Linked DNA regions of Homo sapiens. The protein of the gene in region 2 purifies or fractionates together with the protein of the main gene of each other region. This does not show direct contact. Each region holds a gene or a part of one and is shown on either strand. Other genes may lie near its edges.

Region 1 (4,425 bases), on a different chromosome or scaffold from region 2:
ACCCAAGACACCCGTGGTGAGGACCCCTATCATCAGACTCCAGGGTCCCTGTTCTGAGTTCTGAGTTCCAGCATCACGAACACTGTTCTAAGAACACTGCTGTCTCCCAGACATGCTGACCAGCACCCCACCAGCCAACCCTGGCAGCCCAGCCTGAGTGCGACGTCCTGAGGACACAGAAATGGATCCACGAGCCATCACAGGGAAGGGGGCAAGCTCGCAGAGAAGGGAGGGAAATACAGTGGTGATGTGGGCTCTGGAAGCTTCCACACCACTCTCACCTCTACCTGTGGACGGGCAGACCCTCCCCAGCCATTAGCAAGTGTAAGCTCCTTGGTATCTCTCAAAGAACTCACTGAGGGGAGAGGACCTCCATGTAAAGGCCACACAACGCTGGTTTCAAAGTATCTTCTCCAGAAAAGCTCTGGCACTTACCTTCCCATATTTGCTGAAAAGATTCTTCAAATCTGTAGCTCTGGTTGTAGAAGAGAGTCCACTAACCCAGAAATTTCTACCACAACTGCTGCGACCTATTTCAAAAGAAAATTCTAGTAAAAACCCAAATACCCACAAGATCTTGAGTCTTAGAGACAACCTTTCCAAAAGAGACATGGTTCCCATTTTTCCTGAGGCAGTGGCAGCACTAAAAGCCAAATGGGGCTGTGGGCCTGACCACTATCCTCACCAAGAGCCTCCAGTGCAACACCAGGCCCAGCAGCACTACCACAGGGCCCGTCACAATACTGAGTGGGGCTATTGGGACAATGTGAGGTTTCCTAAGAAAGTTAGCAATTGCGGGCCGGGTGTGGTGGCTCACGCCTGTAATCCCAGCACTTTGGGAGGCTGAGGTGGGCGAATCACGAGGTCAAGAGTTCGAGACCAGCCTGGCCAACATGGTGAAACCCCATGTCTACTAAAAATACAAAAAATCAGCTGGGTGTGGTGGCGGGCGCTTATAATCCCAGCTACTCAGGAGGCTGAGGCAGGAGAATCTCTAGAACCCGGGAGTCAGAGGTTGCAGTGAGCTGAGATCGCGCCACTGCACTCCAGCCTGGGCAACAGAACAAGACTCTGTCTCAAAAAAAGTTAGCGATCGCTTAATTACAGGAGGAAGTGCAGTGTGCAACGGCCATGTAGCAGAACAGTCAACCTTGGTGTCAACAATGCACTGTTTCTCTTTCCACGTATAGCTCTGTATCTATCCCATGTTTTTACTCCTTTAGAACACTGATTAAGAAGGAATTTGGTAGGGTAAAATTATTTCTCAGTTAATGCATTTAATGAAGGGTTACAGGATGAATGTGCTCCCAACACAAGGATCTGCACCAAATCAGCCTGTTAACTCTTAGGACCTGGTATGCTTCCTACAACCCAGAACCTGTAGCGGTAACAGCAGAGAAGGAGAAAGACTGCACAAACGTCTCAGGAGTCTCCTGGGTAAGGAGCATAGCACGCGATGAACCAGAATCAAATACCCGCCACTGCCCAGGCCATACATGCTCCAAGGGACTGGTGTCGCCGAGGTGACCTACCCTTTTCCTCTTTGGAAAGCCTTTTTGTATCCGAGTCATCTTCGGGAGAACTAGAGACAAAAGACAATGTCACTCCACAAGGAAGCAGCATGGAGGAAACAAACTCAAAACCATAAAATTCGTGCTGAGGTTGCATACCTACCCGAAATTTAGTTCTGAAAAAATGATACCCCGACAAACTTGTATTGAAAATCTGACCTAACCATAAGATTTCAGACCCACAGGAGTTAATTAATTCTGCTGGGCTAAAGGTAATTAGGAAGAATTTAAGAACACAACCATGGTAGGTTGAGAAAAAGAAAAGGAATTGAATCACCCATTAAAAACACACAAAGAGAAACGAAACATTCTTTAGAAGCAAAACTACAATTTCGTCAGTCTGGCTGGCCAATTGCAGAAAAAAACAGCTTATGTGTGTCATTACATGACCAATGAAAAGGAGATAGCGTCTGGTCTAAAACTGAGAAAAAACAAACCTCATTTTCTGATCAGCGCCCTCACTGGTTGAGGACTCTTTAGGAGCCGGAGGGACTTCATTACAAGCGTCAAAATCAAACTTCCTCCCGTCTTCTTTGCTATCTCTGGCTTCTGGGCTTGGGGCTTCCGTGGGTGCTTCTGCGAGCTCCTCGCTAGAGGCCTCCGCGAGCTCGGAGGCCGCACTACTCTGCTCAACTGCCGGCTCTAGCCCTACAGGCTCACAGTCCGTCCTCTCGCCATCGCCTGGCTGCTCCGCGGGCTCCCTTTTCACTACCGCTAACAGGCTGTCTGCCTTGCTCGACTGAGCGTGTGCTGTTGACTCGCTGGCCAAATCTAAATCACCCTCTTCCGGATGGGCGCTGTCAAATAGGTCCTCTTCCTCCGCAAGCTTTCTGTCTGGCCCCACGCTACTTGTGTCCTGTGCAAATGGCTGCTCCAGCTCGGAACTTTCTTCTTTTACTGGCTCAGATTTACAAGTTTCCCCCAAAATGTCGAGTATTTTCTCATTTTCTACGGATTTAACAGGAATAGAATGGCACAAGGTTTAATTACCAGGGAAATAAAGCAATCACAAATGTGGAACTGGCACGGCTGCCACACTAACACGAAGAGAACTGCTAGCTACACAGAGATTGGAAAACCCGCGGGTACACAAAGTTATACTGGTTACACTACCTGCGCCGCGACCGCCTCTAGGTAAGCCTCTACGCTACACGGAAGAGAAAAGCATCCCAGAGATTTAACCCCCAAAACCTTCTGGCTGATTCTTGACAGTCTTCATTCTGTCGTCGTTTAGATATGACTCTTCCAAATTTAGCTTCCAAAGTCCAAGTTGCTTAACTGAATGTATCACCATTCACTGAACAGCTCAATTTCCAAATTTCTTTGAATTTCTTTTAACAGAACAGTCCAACATGAAAACCAGAATCTCTTCCATCCGTGCTCTGAGATATTTGCAGTCCAGAAAGTGAACAGTGTTTGGAATTCTCATGAAGACACTCTTTCCTCTTCTGGAATCCAGTTATGTCTCAAATTTATGTTTTAAAATGTATCTCCCTACCACTACCTGAGCTGCCTCAATTAAAAACAACAAAATTAAGCTACTGCCCAATATCACAAGATCTGTTTTGTGGGTGCAGAGGTATTAGCTCTCAAGAGAGGCATCTGGAACTCTTTCTCTATGTATGATTCAATGCTGTTGATATTCAAAAAGGCATGAGATACTTTCATCTCACCAATACATTTTGTAAAATGAGAAGTGAGCCACTTTCACAGATCTGGTGATATGGCTGGGTTTCCAATCTCTATGATCCTGGTAGGTTTTGGATTGTAAACCTTTAGAACAATGTATACTATAGTAAGGTAACTTTTAAAAATCAAAGAATTCAAATTAGAGAAGGTGGAAAACTAGAATGGTTCCAAACCCCCGCTGGTAAGTTTTTCATTTAACAGTACCTGGCTCCAGGGATGGCTCTTCAATTTCCTGCAAGAAAAAACGTAAATAAGACTGTGCCAGATGAATGACACCTACAGTTTATTTAAATGAAAACCCAGAATAACTAAAGAGGGAATTTTAAAAATCCAGGGAGGGAAACTCACAAACTCAAGAGGTGGAGAACCTGCTTGTTCTAGGAATGGCTCCATAAGACTGGCATCCACTTCACTCAGCCCACCCTCCATTCAGTCTCCCCTGCAGGAGCCTGGAACTGGTCTCACTTCATGGTGAGGCACTCATCATAAGCACGCCTGACCCTCTAGATTGAACTCTCAAATTCAAGGAGAGCAGTGTTTTCATTTTTCTACTGTTAGCATCTAGAGGAATGCATGGCACATTAACAGTCACTTTTTCACTCAATGAAGCTACGACAACTTTCTGATATTCGAAAGACTGAGGGAATATGGGCCCAGGTGGTATGACTCCTGCTCTTACTTGGCATGGTGGTGCCAGCATGAAAAACTTTGTAAATACCCTCCCTCCTTCATCTCCTCTTCCAATCAGTGTTCCCACCAGGCCAGTTCTAGAAGTCATTCAGACTCTTCCCAGGAAGCCCTGTCCACTCAGGCTGGTGCCATCCTTGCCTACTGTGGCATCTGGTTGTATTATCCCCATCCCATCTCTCTGCACCTTGTGTCCACAGTAAGCTCATGTCCCTCTGTGGCCTTCAGCCTTCAGCCAATGGATCCCTATGCCACCTCCCTCCCTGACAGGCCCAGCCCTCCCCTGCCCCGTCCAGCCAAGTCATCCACATCCCTCAGTATCCAGCTCAGTGGCATCTCCTTTCAGGAAGGCTTTCCCTATTTCCCTCTAACCCAACTCCAGCTGTGCCCCACTAAGCAAAGGAGCTTTTTCCACATGATGTGATCCCCCAGCCTTTATGTTTCCTGTGCACACAAGGTACACTCCTCTGGAATTCCA
Region 2 (5,351 bases):
GCTTCTGTGTGTAATGCCTGATCCATCGGGGAGAAAAGACTGCAGGAGGCACAGAATCTGTTTTCCCAGCTTTGCTTCCCACAAGCATGACCCTGGGCAAGTCGCAGAACACCTGCAAATCCACATCTGTAAAGTGTCGAGTAGGGGACTGTGCTGTGCTGATGTCCTGAGCCACCCTGCCTGGTTGAGTGTGTTGACCTGGGTTGGGGGAAAAAGCCTTGGAATCAGATTTAAACTGCAGTTCCTCCCAGGTTGTCATGTTGTGTGACTGCAGAGGACAAAGCTTCACTCCCCAAAAGTCGGGCCGGGATGGAGCGCAGTGGCTCACGCCTGTAATCCCAGCACTTTGGGAGGCCAAGGCAGGCGGATCACAAGGTCAGGAGTTCAAGACCAGCCTGACCAACATGGTGAAACCCCGTCTCTACTAAAAATAAAAAAATTAGCTGGGCATGGTGGCGCACACCTGTAATCCCAGGTACTTGGGACGCTGAGGCAGGAGAATCACTTGAACCCAGGAGGCGGAGCTTGCAGTGAGCTGAGATCGCGCCACTGCACTCCAGCCTGGGAAACAGAGTGAGACTCTGTCTCAAAAAAAAAAAAAAAAAAAAAGTTGGGCCGGGAACAGTCCCCCTGCTCACCCTGTGCACAGCAGACCTTGTGCTCCCCAGTGGCCCACTGGGAGTTCAGGGTATGGGGGAAGGGAGCAAATTACTTGGTCTCCAAATCAGACAAATTCTCCACAGACAGTGTCCCTTGGCATAAAGCTCCTGAGAATGTCTCCTCTGGAAGGACAGTGTCATCTGAAAGCTCCTGGCCATTCAGGTCTCAACTTGGCAGCGGCAGCGTCTCCAATTTGGCCCTGAAGACCCACAGGCATTCAGAGCCCATGACTGTGGTTGGTGCTTGAGTCCAGAATGGGCAGCTCCCAAGTAGGGGGTTCTCCTTGGGGTTCACAGGCCTGGAGATCCCACAACCTTGTCAGTGGAGGAGGATGAGGTGGCCAGTCCCTCACCTTGGCAGCACTGCAGGGGGCGCCCGTGCTCTCAAGTCACACTGTCTCTCTCCCACACACATGCGGCGCTGTGCTGGAGGACGGTGGCGCGCTGAGCTTGTCTTACAGAGCATGCTTCTTTGGCTCAGCCTCACTGCTGCCACTCAAGTCCTTCCTCGTCACCAAATGCTTACCTGCATTTTTAAGGCCATCTACTCCACTTGAGAGTAAGTTCTATGAGGGCAGGGGCTTGTAAGCACATAGTAAGCATCTAGCAAATATCCATTGATTAAATAAATGAATGACTCTGTAAACCTCCCTCCACTGCTGACACCCCACTGATATGGGTCAGAAGTGGGGTCAGCAGTGGGGACGGGGTCAGGGATGTCTGTGGGGCATAGTTTTAGGATGAAAACCAGTGATTTGACACTTTGACATACCCACTTTTATGTGGCCAAGAAAAAATAATTGGGTTTTGGTGCCAGAACTCCTGTGGTCAGGAGCCACCACGCAGAGCCTAGGAGGCCCTGGCGCTGAATTGCCTCAGGATGGCTACAGAACACAGGACCCAGGGGTGGCCACAGGCGTAGAGCAGGCCTGGCTGCTGCTGGAAGTGCCCGTTTGAGACTGTAGTTAGCACCCTACACATCGTGGGCAGCCTGGAGCAGCCTGGCCCGGGAGGGAGATCCATGCCTTCCCACCTGCCTGACCTGACCCCATCCAGCTGAGGTACTGCTTCCCAGGCTGCAGACAGCAGCAGGTGTTCCAGACAGTGTGGCTCTCCACATGTGTGCCACATTCACCCCACCCTGGCCCAGAACCGCCCACGTGAACAGGCTTTTTTTTTTTTTTTTTTTTGAGACAGGGTCTAGCTCTGTTGCCCAGGCTGGAGTGCAGTGGTGCGATCATGGCTCTCTGCAGCCTCAGCCTCCCTAGTATACTGCTGGGACCACAGGCATGTGTCGCCACACCCAGCATTTTTTTTTTTTTTTTTTTTTTTGGTAGAGACAGGGTTTCACTATGTTGCCCAGGCTGGTGTCAAACTCCTAGGCTCAAGCGATTCTCCCACCTCAGCCTCCCAAAGTGCTGGGATTATATGCGTGAGCCACCATGCCCGGCCAAGACATTTTAACACAAACTTTTGTTAGCTGGACATGGTGGCACCAGTATTCCCAGCTACTCGGGAGGCTGAGGCAGGAGGATCGCTTGAGCCTGGGCAGTTGAGGCTGCAGTGAGCCATGATCACGCCACTGCACTCCAGCCTGGGCAACAGCGAGACCCAGTCTCAAAAAACAAAACAAAAAAAACAGACTTCTAGTTTTCACTTATTAACTTCACTAGTATTAAAGCTGAGGTAACTAACTCAGCCTACACAACCTTCAACACACACTACCTCTCACAAAGCACCTGAAGTGGTATTGTTGCATTTAGGGCTTGATGATTTGGAGTAAAAGACACTGATGTTACCGATTGTGCCTATTTTTATCAGTGGCTTGTTAATTATTTCTGTTTTCATTAGTGATTTTTATGTATGCAGATTGGTTAGCCATGAAACTGTTAGTCACTTCATTTCTGTTTCTTCCCTGTTGCAACAGCCCATCTTCGTGGGAAGAACCAAGCTTTAGGCTTGGCTCTGAACAGCCACAAAGTGACTTGGCTGAGGTCCTGCCATTTCGCTCATGCTCAGCAGGGGGCAGCAGACCAGGGCAGTTCAGAGTATGGGGTCAAACCCAGGTCCCTGTCCCCACTCCACCTGTGGATTTACCCTGGATTGGGCAAGCCCTTTAACTCTCTGAGGCTCCGTGTTCTCAGAGTGACTCGAGGATTCACTGAGGTGCCGTGTGAGAAGTGGGTGGCCCAGACCTGGACACAAAGAAGCCTTGATCAATGTTTGCAGTTTGATTAAGTGGGTAAATCTGCATATATAAAAATCACTAATGAAAACAAATAATTAACAAGCCACTGATAAAAATAGGCACAATCGGTAACATCAGTGTCTTTTACTCCAAATCATCAAGCCCTAAATGCAACAATACCACTTCTCCAGTTACCTCTTCAGTGAAACGGGAGGCACTCAGGCTCACCTCCAAGGACTTGGACTTGCTGTGATTTAATGGTGGACATTCCTCCTTACAGGGCCAGATCCCTGGAGCTGGAATCCAGGCTGCTTTGTCCCATTTTGAAATTTTCTTATTCAGAAGGTTCTGGAAAGCCAACAAATTGAGTTTGTGACAGAAATTGACATTAACTGGCTGGGTGTGGTTGCTCACACCTATAATCCCAACACTTTGGGAGGCTGAGACAGGAGGATCACTCGAGCCCAGGAGTTTGCAACCAGCTTGGGCAACATAGTGAGACCCCATCTGTACAAAACTTTTTTTTTTTCTTAATGGAGTCTCACTTTATCACCCAGGCTGGAGTGCAGTGAGGCGATCTGCAACTTCTGCCTCCCAAGTTCAGGCAGATCTCCTGCCTCAGCCTCCCAAGTAGCTGGGATTACAGGCACCTGCCACCAAGCCTGGCTAATTTTTGTATTTTTAGTAGAGATGGGGTTTCACCATGTTGGCCAGGCTGGTCTTGAATTCCTGACCTCAAGTGATCTGCCCACCTTGGCCTCCCAAAGTGCTACGTGAGCCACCACGCCTGACCTTCTACAAAAAACTTTTTAAAAATTTACCCAGGTTTGGTGGGGTGTGCCTGTAGTCCCAGCTACATGGGAGGCTGAGGCGGGAGGATCACCTGAGCCCAGGAGGTCAAGGCTGCAGCGAGTCATGATCGCACCACTGTACTCAGCCTGGGTGACAGAGCTCTTGCTCTGTCTCGCGGAGGGGAAAAAAAGAGAGAGAGAAAAAAGAAAATGACATTACCCAAGTCCAGTGAAGTATGTCGGAATTCCATCTTTGACACTAAGTAGCTGGGTAACCTTAAGCCAGTGGTCCTCCCACAGCCTACAACATCAGCATCACCTGGGAACTTGTTAGAGAAATGCAAACTCTTGGGCTTTGCCCCAGCCCCACTAAATGATGGTTCTGGGCGTAGAGCCCTCCAGGTGGTTGGGATGCCTGCTAGCTTGACAACCATGGCCTTAGGCAATTCATTGGAGCTCTTTGAACTGGAGTCCCCCCACCTGGAAAACAGGGGTGAGAATCCTGCCTACCTGCTGCCACTGTCGTGGGGAGGATTAGAAGAGACGACACACTGTAGAGTGCCCGCTGCCCGGTATGGGGAGGCCCCTCTTGCAGGAGCCCCTGCAGGAATCTTAAAGGTTTATCTTCCGTTTTCCCAGCATTTGGAGATGCTGAACGTTGATGCTTTTTGTTGCTTTCTCCCCTTCCTCATTTTATGGTTAGTGATTTAATGGTTTATTTGCTTTCTTGTGTGTTTTTCTCTCATTTTACATTTAGTGATTTTTTTTCATTTTTCTCTTTTGCAGATAAAGACTATTTCCTGATTGTGATTCAGAATCCAACCGAATAAGCCACTCTCTTGGCTCCCTGTGTCATTCCTTAATTTAATGCCCCCCAAGAATGTTAATGTCAATCATGTCAGTGGACTAGCACATGGCAGTCGCTTGGAACCCACTCACACCAATCCAGTGACCGTGTGTGGGCTGGCGGCTCTTCTCCCCCACCAACGGAACCCCTGTGTGCACCAACCTTCCCCAGAGCTCCGGAGCGCCCTCTCCTCACTTCCAGGTTTTGGAGCAAGAGCTTGCAGGAAGCCCGCACCCAGCTTCCTTCTGACCTTCAGTTCACTTTGTCGCCCTTGGAGAAAGCTGTTTTTCTTTAACTAAAAATAACCAAAATGCTTACCCGTCTGTTGTGTCTTTAAACACTAGGTTGAAAAGGCCTCACTCTTCCTGTGTAATCACACGTCGGAGGCCCGGTTGCCTCCTCCAGCCCTGGTGGGAGATGATGTTCATGGTGTCCGAGAGGCCTGCTGCTTCTTGTGCCTGTGGCCATACTTAGTGTAGCTTGGTGTATAATTGGTGCTCTGGTTTCTGGGCCTCTTGGCCCTAGTCCTTCTTTTACTGTTTCCCACTGCTGCCAGTGTTGAAAGATTTTTTCTACTATGCTGCACTGGGGAAGAGAGTGGTACTTACTGAGGACCCGGAATGCACCTGGCGTGTAACATACAGTAGCTCTCACCTCACGGTACCATCTGTAGACAGAGTGTTAGGGCCACCTCAGACATGGGGACTTGGGTTTAGAATGGCTTACCTACGCCCTCACAGCCAGGACACAGGTCTCAGACTCAAATAGCCTTGCTCTTCCCACACTATCTGCCCCAGAAATCCTGGAGGGCCCCCGTTCACCCAAGTGAGCCTGTCCTGGGCAAACATCTGCCCCGCAGACTTGGA

The links.
Region 1: the proteins of DYNLRB1 (region 2) and SAFB fractionate together in Homo sapiens (co-fractionation; one large-scale study listed by BioGRID). This does not show direct contact.

Annotation. Positions count from the first base shown.
Region 1 is NC_000019.10:5,647,083-5,651,507, reverse strand, and holds part of SAFB (scaffold attachment factor B1), read right to left. Parts: intron 3,493-4,425; coding exon 3,465-3,492; intron 2,520-3,464; coding exon 2,009-2,519; intron 1,583-2,008; coding exon 1,533-1,582; intron 531-1,532; coding exon 436-530; intron 1-435. UniProt on the Homo sapiens protein: Binds to scaffold/matrix attachment region (S/MAR) DNA and forms a molecular assembly point to allow the formation of a 'transcriptosomal' complex (consisting of SR proteins and RNA polymerase II) coupling transcription and RNA processing.
Region 2 is NC_000020.11:34,536,157-34,541,507, forward strand, and holds the end of DYNLRB1 (dynein light chain roadblock-type 1), read left to right. Parts: intron 1-4,277; coding exon of another isoform or gene 4,278-4,300; exon of another isoform or gene 4,301-4,336; intron 4,337-4,424; coding exon 4,425-4,468; 3' UTR 4,469-4,802; downstream 4,803-5,351. UniProt on the Homo sapiens protein: Acts as one of several non-catalytic accessory components of the cytoplasmic dynein 1 complex that are thought to be involved in linking dynein to cargos and to adapter proteins that regulate dynein function.